Regions from separate parts of the Homo sapiens genome. Here region 2 is linked to region 1. A link means that fine-mapping ties the variant in region 1 to the expression of a gene that starts in the linked region. Tissue or cell type: whole blood. Region 1 holds a variant in brackets; the other region holds the start of a gene. All regions are shown on one strand. Distances are between the middles of the regions.

Evidence for each region. PIP is the estimated chance that this variant, and not a neighbour inherited with it, causes the effect.
Region 2: it holds the start of APBA2, and the variant in region 1 is fine-mapped to the expression of APBA2 in whole blood (TOPMed, PIP above 0.99). The same link has a PIP of 0.9 or more in blood mononuclear cells.

What each region holds. Positions count from the first base shown.
Region 1 is chr15:29,035,783-29,043,886 of GRCh38, reverse strand. All of the region lies in intron 3 of APBA2 (amyloid beta precursor protein binding family A member 2), which reads right to left. Among named protein-coding and RNA genes, the nearest start is that of APBA2, 150 kb to the right of the region's middle. The variant C/T (reference allele first, on the strand shown) is at 3,892.
Region 2 is chr15:28,882,173-28,890,276 of GRCh38, reverse strand. It overlaps APBA2 (amyloid beta precursor protein binding family A member 2), which reads right to left and starts at 4,303. Exons shown (of 15, transcript NM_001353788.2): 1 at 3,999-4,303.

The DNA.
Region 1 (8,104 bases):
GCAACCGCAAGCTCTGAAAGGACACTAATAAATTAATCTTCCAAAAACAATACTGATATCCAACACTGTCAAGCAAGGCTCTCTAACCTAGCTTAGGGTCACAAAGGGATGTGTTCTCTTTGGAAAACGGCAGTGAAATGGACAAAAATATTGAGCACACACTAAACCTTCAATAACAGGATCCTAGATAAATCAGTGTTAGCACTTCCACAAGACAATTTTGTGGCATCTGAAATATTTACAAAAGGCTTAGCATGTAATATGTATTGTTATGATTTATTCACAACAAATAAACACAGAATCAACTGTGAAGAAATGCATTAAGACGTTAGCAAGGGCTGCCTTCGAGTGATGGGACAATGGTACCTATTTCCTTCCTCTAGTCATTCCTGGCTATAGTACTTCTACAGACAAATAACATAAAAAAGACAAGCATAAAAAAGCCCAGGAAGCCTTGGGCAGCCATACCTGTCAGGTGACATTTCTGCGGTGGGAAGGGTGTTAAGTCTCAGCAGCCCTTGGAAGAGGCTTGGGGTTAATGTTGGGCCTAACTTCTTCCTTCTGGGCATTCAATATGCTGAGACATCTGCCCCACTGCATCCTCATCTCGAAATACGCAAAGGGCGATGATCTGCCCTTTAAACATCATTAAAATTGCTGTCAGACCTTCATCATCAATACTAGTCTCCAGGAAATGGCATTTTCAATATCTCACAATGTAGTCCACGCCTGAAAGCAGCATTAATGCCGTAACAGGAACAGAGTAACTGTGTGCACTTCTGGCCTGGCCGGTATTTGCTGTTCTTCCTGGGTTACGTCTAACAGTAAGAAGTCAACTCTCTCCCACAAGAACTTCTGGAAATAGCGGTGCCTTGGCAAAGTCTACCTCTGCATGTCATGTTTGCTCCTGGATGCCTTTAGGGGAAAAGCGAGGGTCCAGATAAGAGGGCAACTGAACACAGAACGTTACCAGCACTGACCTTTTTCTTAACATGCTGGAGAAAGGGGCGCAGCTTCTGCAGCTGCCAGGACCCCGTGCAAAGAAGTACACTGCTAAATACACCCTCTACCAGATCCATCCTCAGAGACAAAGAAATCTGTCACCCCCAGAGAAGCGGCCACAAGACTCGAGGGGGAAAAGTCTGCTTCTGCTTGTTGCCCTGTGATTTTCACATTTTTCTAGTCATTTCCAAGTGCATACAGTACTGTGTAGATTTAAAATAAGCCACATCCGTGTTATGGCTGAATTATGTCCCCTCAAAATTCATATGTTTAAGTTCTCATCCCCTGTACCTCAGAATATACTTTGTTTAGAAATAGGATCACTGCAGCTGGGTGTGGTGGCTCACTCCTGTAATCCCAGCACTTTGGGAGGCCGAGGCGGGCGGATCACAAGGTCAGGAGACTGAGACCATCCTGGCTAACACAGTGAAACCCTGTCTCTACTAAAAATACACGTGGTGGCATGCACTTGTAGTCCCAGCTACTCAGGAGGCTGAGGCAGGAGACTCTCTTAAACTCGGGAGGCAGAGGTTGCAGTGAGCTGAGATCGGGCCACTGCACTCCAGCCTGGCAACACAGTGAGGAAAGAAAGAAAAGAAGAGACAGCGAGAGAGAGAGAGGAAGGGGATTACTGCAGATATAATTAGTTGACATACAGTAATTTGCGTAGGCCCTAACCCAATAGGACTGGTGTCCTCTAAAGAGGGGAATTGTGGAGACAGTCACACAAACAGGATGAAGGCAGGGCTCTAAACTAGGGAACATCAAAGATCGCCAGCAAACCACCACAAGCAAACGGAGACGCATGGGACAGACTTTCCCTCACAGCCCTCATGAGGCACCAGTCCTGAGGACACCTCAATCTGGGACTTCCAGCCTCCAGAACTGAGACAGTAAGCTTCTGTTGTTTATGCCACCCAGTCTGTGGACTTCTTACAGCAGCCCTAGAGAACTAAGAAAGTCCATAAGGATCATGTGCCCTTTATTCAAAGTTCAGAGTTCCCTTGTTTTTCATCTTCTGGGAAATTCTCCCGCATGTAATCAGGAATATTTTTTCACCAGGGATCTAACCATTGTTTCCACTATTGATCCCTTATTTTTCTATATAAATTTTAGAATCCCATTATCAATATCTAGTTTTTTAAATCCTGCTGGAAATTTGATTGGGATTGCAATGAATCTATAGGTCGATTTGGGGAGAATTCACAACTATACTGAATCTTCCAAAATATAAATATATCTTTCCATGAGTTGGGTCTTTGATTTCTCTCATCAGTATTCTTTAGTCTCCAGCATACGGATCTTGTATATTTTCTTATTTATATGTAGTTCTTTCTTTTTTGGGGGGATGCTATTGTAAATGATACCTTTTTTTAATAATTGCTTTTTTTTTTTTTTTTCTGAGACAGGGTCTTGCTCTGTCACCCAGGCTGGAGTAAAGTGGCACAAATATGGCTCACTGCAGCCTCAACCTCTGGGGATCAAGTGATCCTCCTGCCTCAGCCTTCTGAGTAGATGGCACTACAGGTGTGTGCCACCAGGCTCAGCAAAATTTTATTTATTTACTTATTTATTTAGTAGAGAAGAGGTCTTACCATATTGCCCATGCCGATCTTAAACTCCTGGCTCAATGATCCTCCCACCTTGGCCTCCCAAAGTGCTGAGACTACAGGCATGAGCCATCACACCTGGCCTACTCATTTCTTAAACTCATTTTTCTTTTATTCAGGATAATTTCTATTGATCTACTTAGAGCTAACTTAGATTCTTTCTTCTGTCATATACATTTGCTTTTGAACTCATCCAGTAATATTTTTACTTCATTCTAAAATTCCTATTTTTTTCTTTTTTTTTTCATATTGCCCTGCTGCGAATTTCTATGTTTCTGTTAATTTCAGAACTGTCCATCTTTTACCTCATGGAACATGGTTATAACAGTCACTTTAAAGTCTTTGATAATTTCAACATCTATGTCATCTCAGGGTTGACATTTGTTAATTGCCTTTTCCCTTGAGAACTGGGTCATTTAAAAAATATTTTTAATTGATTGACTGAAGAATTAGTCAGATTTTTTTGCTTCTTTGTATCCCAAATAATTGTAGATTGCATCCCAGATCGCTTTAATATGTACATTTTAACCCTGATTAAAAATGTTGAATGAGAGAGAATGTTGAGAATGTAGAGAATGTTGATTTTCATGTGTCTGCTTCATCAGACGATAAATCCACTCAGGTTGAGAACACAAGCTCTGGTTCCCCTTCGTTAGGGGATGGAGTTAACGTCAGTGCGGTTTCAAAACCCTTTGCTGTGCTCTGTGAGTTGGCTTCAAGCACGAGCTATTCAGGGATTAAGTCTGGGACCCGGGCCACGGTTTCTATTGCAGCTTAAATCCAAAGCCTTTGCTATGGTTCTCTGGGTATATCCCATACATGGAGTTGGTTCAGAAACATAAATAAACCCTCTTTTCCAGATTTCCCCTCTCCAAGATTTCTTCCATATTCCGCTACTACCAGATGCACCTTTTCCTGGTTCCTCTGCCCATAAAGTTGGGGCTCTCCCAGAGTTTTAGCCTAACACATCACACTCTTTCACAGTTTCTTGCAACTGCAGCCCCTGCTGAGGGCAAAGCAGAATGAGAAAGAGAAAAAAATGGGGATTCTTCCCACCACCTTTATGCAACAACCGGTTCCTCCAACCAGAGAGTTGGATTTTCTCTCAGGGTAGTAGGTGCTACTGCTCTGGGTCTGGCAGGGCCAGGAGAGAGGAAAAGACAAAACAAAACAGTGATCCCTCCTAATCTTCAGCTTGCAGCGTTCCTCTTTTCAACCCTCTGGCCACAAAGATGGGTTTCTCACAGAGTTTTGCTGCCTCTGCCCACTGTGCTATTTC[C/T]CAAATCAGTCAGCACTCAGATCAAAGGAGGGAAAAAAACCCAACCACAGAAACTCTATTCTAATGTGCTGCGCATTCAAGCTCCAACCCCCTTCCCGATGGGGTTGCTTTTCATTCTGTTCAGAGTTTTGAGTTCTAATCCGTGAGTGGAATGGACGATAGTGGGCTTACTCCATCCTGGACAGCACTGATGTCATCCATGGATCTCTTTACAGATTTGGGGAGGTACATTAAGTTAAAACCTGTTTATTTTTACTTCATTCGATTAATCAGACACTGCCCATCAGCGTTCAGCTAGGCTTGACATCATCAGCATTATCATCGGCAGGAAAGGTCACGCCACACGAAAACTGGCAGGCTGTGGTCCTCGGGCCTAAACCCCGGTTGGATGCTAGAATCAACCTGAGGAGGTTTAAAAAATATCAATTCCTGGATCCTGCCCCAGCTCCATGAGGTCAGAATTTCTGGGTGAGGAGAATTTGGACACTCTGGGTGGCTGACATGCAGCCAAGGCTGAGAACCACTATAATGAATATGACAAAAATGTGAAGGGTCCATGGTCCCATCATATCTTAGGATTCACAGTTTCTGATGGGGAGCTGGATGCCAGGAGGATAAGGAGGAACTGAGGAAGGAATGAGAGAGTTACGCTGTTAAGGGCTGGCCTGACAGCCTCTCCTCTACCACTCCCTGCTGCAGATATCCCAGGTCTTTGTGGTAATAAGATACGACCTTCTTTAATAACACATAAAACTTCAAAGGCCCTGTCTGACCCCCTCACAGGAATCTCCCTGGTGGGCCTTAGGGAAGCAATGCAACTCCTCAGCAGCAACCCTGATACACACACACACACACACACACACACACACACACACACACACACACACACACACACACCCTGACATACAGCTGAAATAAGGCTGCATGCTCAAAGGACACTTTCAAGGCAGCATATCTCCCCGCTTCATCTTCTTCCTTGATCAACAATAGTAAATCATCTCAAGGTCCTTCTAAAAAATGCATGCGCCAGGCGTAGTGGCTCACACCTGTAATCCCAGCACTTTGGGAGGCCAAGGCGGGCAGATCATGAGGTCAGGAGTTTGAGACCAGCCTGGCCAACATAGTGAAATCCTGTCTCTACTAAACATACAAAAATCAGCCAGGTGTGGTGGCGCACACCTGTAATCCCAGCTACTCGGGAGGCTGAGGCAAGAGAATCATTTGAACCCAGGAGGTGGAGGTTGCAGCGAGCCAAGATGGCCTCACTGCACTCCAGCTTGGGCAACAGAGTGAGACTTCGTCTCAGAAAAAAAAAAAAAAAAAAAAAAAATGCCTGCATATAGGACAGAGCCAAATAGGAAGTGGGTGTGTGTCCCTCCAGGGCCCCTACTCCAGACAGAGTCTGGGCTTCTGTCCCCACCGTTCACCTAATGCTTCAGTACTATCTTGAGGGCTCTAATCGCAGGACCAGGAAGCTCAACTGTCAGAGTTGCAAAGTGCAGCGTTGCTGATTTGGTTCAGCACTGTGGAGACAGGACAGGAAACCAACCCATACCACGGAAAAATGCACAATTATTTTCAAAAGCTAACCATTCAAGGATGACCTACGGTTTCAATCCCCCAATCCTCTGAGCTTCTCCATAGCTGAGGTTCTGTGAATTCCCAAGTAGCCCTCGGAAGATAGGTCACTTGGAGCCAGAAAAGGGGATTTCCCAGGTGCTGTGGAGGGACGTGCCTGGAGAGGAGCTCTGTGGTGAGCCAGAGTCCCCCAACACCAAAACGAAGAGGAGACCCTGGAGTTCAGACAGTGTGGGGAAGGCAGAAGTTGTTGTCAAAGCACAGAGCTGGCAAGCACAGCACCAGCTGCCTTGGCTAGAGCTTACAGAGTCCTGGGGGGCAAAACCAGAGGTGCCAGCCAGAGAGTGGACTGGGCCCAGGGTGCAGGACACCAGGATCCATGGGGAAGGCAGTCCCTCTGCTATGGTTCAGAAGTCCCTGCCAATACTCATGTGGAAATTTGATTGCCATTATAACAGTATTAAGAGACAGTATGCTGAAGAGGTGATTAGGCCATGAGGACTCTGCCGTCAGGAATGGATTAATGCCATTACCCAGGGAGAGGGCTCCTCATAAGAGGTTAAGTTTAGCCCCTATCTTGTCTCTCTGTCTCTTTGCCATGTGATGCCTTCCACCATGTTATGAGGCAGCACAAAGGCCCTCACCAGATGCTGGCACCATGCTCTTGGACTTCCCAACCTCCAGAACTTTGAGCCAATAAACTTCTTTTCTTTATAAATTACCCAGTCTGTGGTACTACGTTATAAGAGGACAAAATGGACAAACACACCCTCTAACAAGGAGAGTCAAGGGTCCCAGTCACTCTGGCCTGATTTCTTCCAGCCCCACGTAACTCTGGCTGTCTCTCTCTGCTTGCCTCAGGTCCTCACCCACAAAAGACATGTAAAGACCCTCCTCTCCTGAAAGGCCTGGAAGCTGCCCCTCTAATCCCAACAAACCCTCAGAGGCACTGGCCATGGTGATGGGCAACCTGTAATCTCACACGATGATTCACATCATCCTTCTGGTAACTCACCCCAGGCTGTTTGCCTGGTCCCTAGAACCATCTTTAACTTTCTGTACACGGTGGCTACACACCCACCCAGTCCATAAGCCAATGGAGGCAGGGGCTGCATCTCATATTTAAGTGTGCTTTGGAGCTACCAAGACGGGTTCAATGATAGCTGCTAAAAGGGTAAACATGAAATTCAAATGCTTAAATTAAACTCCACTGGATAAATTACAGGTTACTCAATCACTTTGATAAATGATTATCTTCTGAATAAAAATTCTCCCAAAAGATGTCTTTAAGTAGCAAGTTTCTCCTAGCTTATTTTAAACAATTTAACTTTTATTTTAAATAATTTTATTTTAAATAATTTAACTTTATTTATGCAAAACTTTCTCTTTTTTTTTTTGGAGACAGGGTCTCTCTCTGTTATCCAGGCTGGAGTGGACTGGTGTGATCTCAGCTCACTGCAACCTCCACCTCCCAGGTTCAAGCAATCCTCCTACCTTAGCCTCCAAAATAGCTGAGATGACAGGTACACACCACCTTGCCTGGCTAATTTTTGTATTTTTTATAGAAACAGGGTCTCACCATGTTGCCCGGGCTGGTCTCAAAGTCTTGGACTCAAGCAATCTGCCTGCCTCAGCCTCCCAAAATGTTGGGATTTCAGGCATGAACCACCATGCCTGGTCTACTTACTGCACAACTCCTAAACAAATGTTACCACTGTAAGAAGCAGGGAACTCTGGGGTGTTCAGCAGGAGATGATGTAAAAGAGGTGTGGGAGTCACCTGCTGGGCCTCTGGCCACCCCTCCTTTGAAGGCCACCTGAGGTCTCTGCACCCCAAACCCTCATACACAGTTCCCCAGTCCAGTGGGGAGGCCCCATATCGCTTGCTGGGGTGGAGGCAGCTTCACCCACCACCCGACCAGGTTTCTCCAGAGCTGCTCCCACCACCCCTTGGCTCAGCAGCACTGCCTCCCATCCTAGCTGTGCACCCTGTGGCTACTAGTGAGGCTCGCTTTGAAGTGAGCATCTCTGCTGAAGCACCCCTTCCTCAATGCAGGTGATGCTCATCCTCCCTGAAGGAGACCTGGGGACATTTGTCTACTAAGCAACATTTTCTTCCCCAAGAAATACCTGGTAAGGGGAGAGTCTGTAGATATGTTAAAAAAAATAGTTTTTTAAGACAAAAAATATATATATATGTATTCAGGCCATCTGTCAGGCACTGAGGCCTGGGCAAGGAGGTGTGGCTGGTGGGTGGCGGGAAAGCATAGGGGGGTGAGGGCTCTGCCTACAAGGACACAAGGGAGGGGCAAGGCAGCCTCTGGCAATGAACCCTGGCACCTCTCCAGCCTCCCGGGCCCAGCCCTGAGCCAAAGGGCACAGCCAGGGCCAGGTAAGGGGGTCACCAGCGGTGGAGTCCCTGGGCCTTGGCTTGCAACCAGGAAGGTTGCCAAAGCTTCCCCAGGTAGGGGGGCGCTCCGGGGTGACAGCTGGCACCCTGAGGGGTCCATATTCAGCTTCAGATCTTTGTCTGCTCCTGTCCTCTCTGGCCTGCTTTGCATCCCAACAGTTCCTTCCCATGCAGCAGAGCCACCTGCGGGGCTTCTGGCTCCCAGCCCTAGAGCTTCTGGCTCAGC
Region 2 (8,104 bases), 150 kb after region 1:
CTCACTCTTTGGGCTGCTTACCTTCCCAAACACATTCTCCTCTGGCCTATGTGAAACTGACGTTGCACTGTACAATTCTACAGCTCTTTCCTGACTGCCCACTGAGTGAGGGTCTGTGCTACATGCCAGGAGGATCCAAATGTGAACACAGCTAGGTTCCAGCTCTGGGACGCGGGAAAAGGAGGCACAGGGAGCAGGACATGTGCTGCAAGGAGACTACTGCTCCCGTGTTTCGTTCACTCACTCATCCAACAACAGCGCTAAGGCTCTGCTGTGTGCCAGGCACTTTTCTAGCTACTGGGGATCCAGAGGTGAACAAAGTCTTTTACAATTGAGTGGTAAGAGACTGACAATAAACAAACAAGTAAATAAATAACACACTGAATGGTGAGTACTAAGGAGAAACACAAAGCAAGGTTAACAAGAGAAACACAAAGCAAGGTTAACAAAGCCAATTTATGTAGGGCTTTCAGGGAGTGGGCAATAAGTGAGGGGCCAGCCATGTGAGCATCTGGGGGTGGCTCATGCCAAGGGGGTGGGAACAGCAGGTGCAAAGGCCCTGAGGCAAGAGTGGCCTGACAAATCTGAGGACCAAGGAATAAGAGGGAAAGAGCCCACATTCAGTTGGGATCTCCAGGATGGACATGCGCCAAGATGACAGGTGGGGATGGGGTGGGGACAACCCAGGGCAGATCTGGGCAGTAAGCCTGTCTGCCTGGAGCCAGGGCAGCCTGGAGGGGCCATTCTTGGGAGCAAGTGGGGGAACTTGAGAAAATCCAGCCGAGTAACGTGGATGTGGAGGGAGCACTGGAAAGCCACTGAAGGCCTGGGCAATGGTGACACACCTGGCCTGGGCCAACTTGCAGAGTCAGGAGTACCCCACAGCCCCCAACCTGGGAAACCTCACAGCCAGCACAGAAATCACAATGCACACAGCAGTGGCACCCCACCAGTACGTAGGGTTCCACAGAGTGAGCCTGGCTGCATGATCTTGAGGTCACCTACCTCCCAGGGCTCCCTTGTGTGTCTGGACAGGGAGAGAGGGGAAGATTGGCTTCAGGGGAGGCGAGAAAAGACGGTGCCCACGACAGCTGACTCAGCCTGTGCCAGCAGGCTGCTCTGAGACACGAGCTGGACCCAACCCAGGCGGTGGGCGGCAGGGGGTTGGGGAGGAACTCTGGGAAACGAAGGAGCCAGAGAAGCCTCCCTGTGGGCACTCGGGCCAACCACCACCCAAGGGAACAAAGAGCACCCCCAGCCCCCGCTGGGCACACAGGCTGCCTCCTGGTGAGCAACCCTCTCAAACTTCACCCCCAGCCCCCACCGGGCACACAGGCTGCCTCCTGGTGAGCAACCATCTCAAACTTGACCTACATCGGGGAGGCCTGCCTGGTGGTCAGTGGCTACCTTACATCCTACCTGTGCCTCCACGTTCCCAGTCCTCACAGCCACCTGGCAAGGGTGAGGAACTGAGACTGCATGGGGAGGGCACGCAGCCTGTGAGTGATACAGCCAGGACCGCCCGCCACCCAGGCCCAGAGCTCTCTCCACTCTCCCCATTCTCTAAGGACCAGGCTGCAAGGCAGGGCATGTGATCTCTGCCGAAGACATTCGAGCCACCCAGTGATGTGTGCTGGGTCTCGATCCCCACCGACCGCCAGTCCTCTCCTCCCCTGGACAGTAAAGGTTTCTCCACGACTTCGGACCATGGTGTCACCTGAGGCCCACACCTGTTGAGTCACCGGGGCAGGTATGCGTGGCAGAGGACAGCCAGGAGCGCCGGAGAGGAGCTGAGGCCTCGAGGGGGTCTCTGAAGCCAGGCTCAACCCCCACTCTCCCCACTCCAACAGCCCTCACCACAGCCACCGCCGCCCAATCCAAACAAAGCCCAGCCTGATGCCAACCTCACCATCAACTGTTTTTCCTCTGACTTCCTCAGTTTTGTCTAGGAAAAATCAAGGTGTCTTATCACCCCTCTCAGCTTCCAGGGGTGTGATCAGTGTCTTTTACAATTATCTCTTATTTTTATCCAGTATTTCTTAGCTCAGTTGGCAAACTAGGTATTTATGCACCTCCATTTCACAATCCATCCCCACCAATTATGCCTGTAAAACTAACATTTTGTTGAAAAAAAGAGGTTAGAACTACTTAAAAAGGTTTTGTAAACAAGTTAACTAGCAGGCCACAACTTGAGTCTAGGGTGTCAGAGAAAACATGCAAGGTGGAAGAGAATGAGGAGCTGACGGTCACCAGTTTCACCTCCTTCCAGCGCCCACCCAACTCTCCTGCTCACACACACTCACACCCCGTGGGACTCAGCCTGCAGCTCCTCCCATCCCAGGAGCCCAGGAGACCGGCAGTAGGGAGGGGCACAGACCACACTTCCTAATAAATAAGAGGGAAGACTCGGTGCCCCATCGCTAATGCCATCACCCAGTCCCAGCCCAGCCATGGAGCCCACTCCAAGGGCCCCCCTGACAGTGCTGCTAGAGCCCACCGAGGGAAGGCTGCCGGCACACAGCCACAAGCTCCAGCTTTACCCACTCACGCCCTGGACATTGCCTGGAGCCCCAGCGTTCCAGGTCCGTGTCACCCTGGCCCTCCTGCCTGGCAGATCCTAAGCTCAGGAGACCCTCTCCAGCCCAGGCTGCAGGGGGAAGCAGCCCCCACGGTCACCCAGGAATCAGCACAGAGGGCAGGGCATCCTGGACGCCCTGGACTGGGAAACCCAGATCCTGTCCCCTGCGTAGTGGCGACACACAGGAGAAACCCCTGCCTCACCTCATTGGAGGGACCCTGACCCAGAGGCCTGAGAAAAAGCCACCTGCAGGCTCCTGGCACCTGCCAACCTGCACCTTAGGAAAACTCGTCCCACTTCAACCTGCAAAGCTCTCGGGTCATTATTTCTAAAATCACTGTCCTTTCTCAAAGAGGAAGGAAAACAGAAAAATAAAACAAAAACAAAAACAGAAAGAGGCACAGGAGGTTGAAGAGGCCAGAGGCAGTTTAGCCCAAAAACAGTGCCAGACGCAAGATGCCGAGTTCGGGGTGCCTCACCCTCCACATGCCCATTTAGGAGCTGACTGCACTCAACCACAGATTTATGTCTGGTGCCTGCCAGGTCGTATCTGAATAGATCTGAAAAATTAAGCCTTCCTTCTGCCAGTAAATACGAAGTTAAGACTAGCAGGCCCCTCTAAGGCTCTGCTCTCCACGGCGGTCCTCGGCAGGCGTCGGAGAAAGGAAGTTCGCCCCCTCCCCGCCTGGGCACACCGAGGCCCGCTGCCCGGCCCATGGCGCCCTGCTTGGGGACCGGGGGCCTCGATGTTCTCCTTCACCATCTGCAGCCAGATCTCCCGCCAGCAGCCTTGCCAGGCAGTGCCTGCCATGGGGAAGGGGCCAGGCCGAGGGGCAGGTCCGCGCCGTGCCCCCAACCGGGCACCTGCAGCCCAGGAGCAACGGGGTGTGGGGTTTTGAATTGATAAGTTTTCCCCTCTGGGCCTTATTATAAAGGGAAAGGGAAGGGGGCGAAGATCTGGGCTTGGGTTCTCTGGGGGCAGCGAACCCAGAGGCGACCCCAAACTCAGTAGTTGCCGCCCGGCACGGGGACTTGATGCCGGTGCCAAGCAGCCCGGCCAGCCCGGCAGGAGTCGAGCGGACAGCCCCGCCACACAGCGCCTCTTGTCCGCGCCGGGTGGCCCCTTGCCGCGGTGCCCCCCGCGCGGGATGCGAGAGCCGCCGCCTGGTCCCCGCCCCGCCCGCCCACCCGTCGTGGGAGGGGGAAGCGGCCGGTCAGAGAGGAGTGGGGCCGCCGGGCTGTACCCCCATATCCCAGCGGCGGCCGCCCCGCAGCCACGCTGAGTCGGGAGGGCAGCGCTCTGGAGCGCTCGGGCCGCAACCTCCGCGCCGCCCCCCACGCGTCCGGGTCCTCGCGGCGCCCCGGGCGGCCCCAGGCTGCCGCCGCCGGCAAGTCAGGCAGCCCAGGTTCCCCAGCTTACCTGGCCAGGGCGCTGGGCTGCCCGGGTACGCCGCCGTCCCCGCCCCGCTGCCGCCGGCTCAGTCCGCGAGGCCGAGCTCTTTGTGAGCCCGCGCCGAGCCGCACACCGCGACTGCTAATGAGCCCGGGAAGCTGAATAGCTTCCCGAATAGCGGCGGGCGCGCCCCGGACGCAGCGTACGGCACGCAGGGCCGCCTCTGCCGGGCGCACGCGGCGCGGCTGCGGGGCGCATCCCGCACCGGCCTGCGGCTGCCGGGCCTGCGCCCCCGCCCCGGCCGCTTCCGCCTCACCCGCGCCGGGCACACTGGGGCCGGAAAACGATTCCCGGCTAGATCGCGCGCCGTGAAGAGAGGGAAGACAAAGATGCGTCCGTGCCGGGCGTGCGCGAGGTCCTGCGCCCCCTGGCCCCGGCGCTGGGACAGTCTGCAGGGCAGGAGGGTGCACTCGGGACCCCGGGTCCCCCCGGGCCGGTCTCCGGGATCGGGGCTGGGACCCAGGCGCTGGAAGGCGCGGCGCCCCGAACGCCCCGGGCCCTGGGGAGCACACAGATTCCCGGGCGTGCCCCGGCCGTGCTGGCTGGGGAGCTGCAGGGGTCTGGTCCCGCAGGTAGAGCCAGTGAACGCGAGGCTCCGCAGGTAGAGCCGGTGAACGCGAGGCTCCGCACCTTGCCCCGGCCGCCGCGCCCTGCTTGCTCGGCCCCGCGCAGCTGTAATGGGGGACCCTAGAGCGAAGAACCCTCGAGCGAAGAACTCTCGGGGATCGCGGCCTCCGAAGGCCCCATCCGGCAGAGGAGGCCCCCTGCTGCCTCCCCACCGCAGCTCCCCTAGGCGCATGCTGGACTCCCAAGTCTTCCCTGGCGGTCCCCGGTAACCATCCCAGCACCCCGTTTCTGATACTCTGTGCTGCTTTAGCCCCCAGCCCCAGGGCCTCACTCCAGGGCTTTCTCTCCTTGCTGTCCTAAATGGAGAGAACCCTGACCTCCGCGGGGCCCTGGGGAGCGTACACTCCTAGACACTCACATGCATCCCCAGGGGAGCCAGTCTTCCGCCCCTACAGCGCGAGAAATGCCCTGGAGGCCCTCGAAGGTCGTGCTGGAGACTCCGGTGTCACCTTTGGCCCTCTGGCCCTTTCACTGAGTCCCAGGCAGATGTGATGAGCCATGGGAGATGCACAGGATGCCTTGTCTGGGCAGAGCGGGGGCTCAGGGGCCTCCCTCCCCCCAAATCGTGGTGATTTGCCCTCGTTTTCTTTTCTCCTGTGGCTGGATTAGGCGAAGCTGTGGCATGGGAAGTTCTGCCCAGGTCAGAAGGCACAGAAGGGCAGGGGGACTTGGGAGTGAGGACAGCGCATCTTCCTGCTGCCCTGAGGGCCCGAGCTGAGACCCTAAGGAGAAGGGGCTGGGGGAAGCCGAATCCTGAGATGGACTAGGGTTAGATACACTGTGGACTTGGCCTCTCCACACCCTGCCCCCACCAAACATTCACAGGTTTCCAGGGCCAGAGCCGCCAGTGGGGGCTGCTCCTGGTAGGGGAGCTTTGTAGCCACAGGGCCAAACAAAGGGGCAAAGGCCAGGGCAGGCCAACGAGGTTCCTGACCTATGCCCCTCCGTACTCAGATGAGCACACCTTCACTGTCTACTTTCCACCTGCATAGACATTCTGCTTACCTGGCTAACACAAAGTTCATCCAGCCTCCTGTGGCCCAGCCTTTCACCAATGCCAATAGTGGGAAGCAACAATTAAGAAGAAGTGATTCTGAGAAGATAAATGCAGTCATCTTCTTGCCTTACTGTTATGTGGTCACATCCCATAGGAAACCAGACACCTGTGCCTGAAGCTGATCCACACAACACCCCCCACCTCCTCAAACCCCCACCCCCATCTGTGTGAACGTGTGTGGGCCGGTAAGTTGCATGCTGTTCCTTCAACAGCCTCCCTTGAGATCTTCCCATGAGCAGGCTCTGGGCCAGTCACTGGAAATTAAACCCCATCGCAGCACCCGGGAGTGATAGTGGCTGAAGTCCTCAGTCCACAAGATGAAAGGTATAGGCCTAGGGCCAAGAACAGTGGCTCCCACCTATAATCCCAATACTTTGGGAAGCTGAAGCAGGAGGCTCGCTTGAGCCCAGGAGTTCAAGACTGCAGTGAGTTGTGATCGTGCCACTGCACTCCAGCCTTGGTGACAGAACAAGACCCTATCATTTTAAAAAATGAAATAAATTAAATAAATTTAAAAATAAAGGTACAGGCCTGCCCCCAGCCTCACTCAGGACTCCTAAATCTGGTGAGCTTGAGCCAACTGCCAGTATTCAGAGAATTTTTGAAGAATCATTAGGACAAACAGTTAGTGCATGTGAGGCTTAAAACCTAGATGACAGGTTGATAGGTGCAGCAGACCACCATGGCACACATATACCCATGTAACAAACCTACACGTTCTGTACTTGTATCTGGGAACTTAAAATTTTAAATTTAAAAAAAAAAAGTATCTTGGAATGGGAAAGGCCTTTCTAAGTATGCAACAAAATCAAAAAGTGGTAACAAAAAAACAGCTAAGTTTGACTTCAAAGAAACTCTGGCATGGCAATCACTACCATAAGCAAAGTCTACAACAAAGGGGAAAAAATTATTTGCAATTCATATCACAAGCAGCTAATTTCCCTAACACATAGATAGCATCTAGAAATTGATAAGAAAAAAAAAATCAAAAGAAGGCATCACGGATCATCACCAGGCCCCCACCTTGGCTCACACCTGTAATCCCAGCTACTCAGGAGGCTGAGACAGGAGGATCACTTAAGCCCAGGAGTTCCAGGCTGCAGTGAACTATGATCATCCCAATGCACTAAGCCTGGGCAGCAGTATGAGACTGTCTCTTAACAGAAAAGACAAAGAAACAGGTAAAGGGTAAGAAGCAGACAATTCACAGGGAAGGAAATACAAATGACTTTTAAACATCTGAAAAGCTGTCCTCCCTTATTCATAATAAGAAATGCAAATTAAGCCAGGCATGGTGGCTCACACCTGTAATCCCAACACTTTGGGAGGCCGAGGCAGGTGGATCACTTGAGGTCAGGAGTTTGAGACAAGCCTGGCCAACACGGTGAAACCCCGTCTCTACTAGAAATACAAAAATTAGTTGGGCATGGTGGTGAGCACCGGTAATCCCAGCTACTTGGGAGGCTGAGGCAGGAGAATCGCTTGAACCTGGGAGGCAAAGGTTGCAGTGAGCTGAGATCGCACCACTGCACTTGAGCCTGGGCAACAGAGTGAGACTCCATCTCAAAAAAAGAAAAAGAAATGCAAATTAAAACTATGCTGAGATGTCATTGTGTTCACTGATCAGAGACCCAGGAGTTCAGTAATACAATATATTCCAGAAAGCAAGAGGAAACTGGCAGATACCCACACTGCCCATGGGAGTGTAAATCAGTACAACTTCTGTGTAGGAAAATCAGATGATGTCTATCAAAATTACAAATGCACAAGCTCTTTGACCTAAGAATTCACTTCTAGGAATTTTTTGACTTGTATATCACACGTGCAAAACAGGCATGAGTAGAATCATTCATGGTGCTATGTTTCTGTAGTAAGTGACTGCAGACAATCTTGATACCCATGAAAAGGGCACTGTTCAATGCATGAGGGCACTTCCCAACACTGAAATAGAATGCAGCCATAAAAGAAGGAAGAAACGCATGATAAATTAACATGGGAAGTTCTCCAAGATAATTGTTAAGTGAAAGAACAAAGGGCAGAAGATGTGTGTAGTATGCCACCATGTGAGTAAAAAAAGCAAAAAGGAAAAAAGGGTGAGCCTATAGATGCTCATATACAATAATAAAGCCTTTCTGGAAGGATCACAGTAAACTGAAAAATGTTGTCACCCTTGGGAAAGAAAGTAGTGTCTGGGGCGGGGGTGACAGGAAAACTTTTCAGTGATTTTCCTTTTCCTTTACTTTTTCTTTTTTTTTTTTTTTTTTGAGACAGAGTCTCGCTCTGTCACCCAGGCTGGAGTGCAGTAGCTCTGTCTTGGCTCACTGCAAGCTCCGCCTCCTGGGTTCACGCCATTCTCCTGCCTCAGCCTCCAGAGTAGCTGGGACTACAG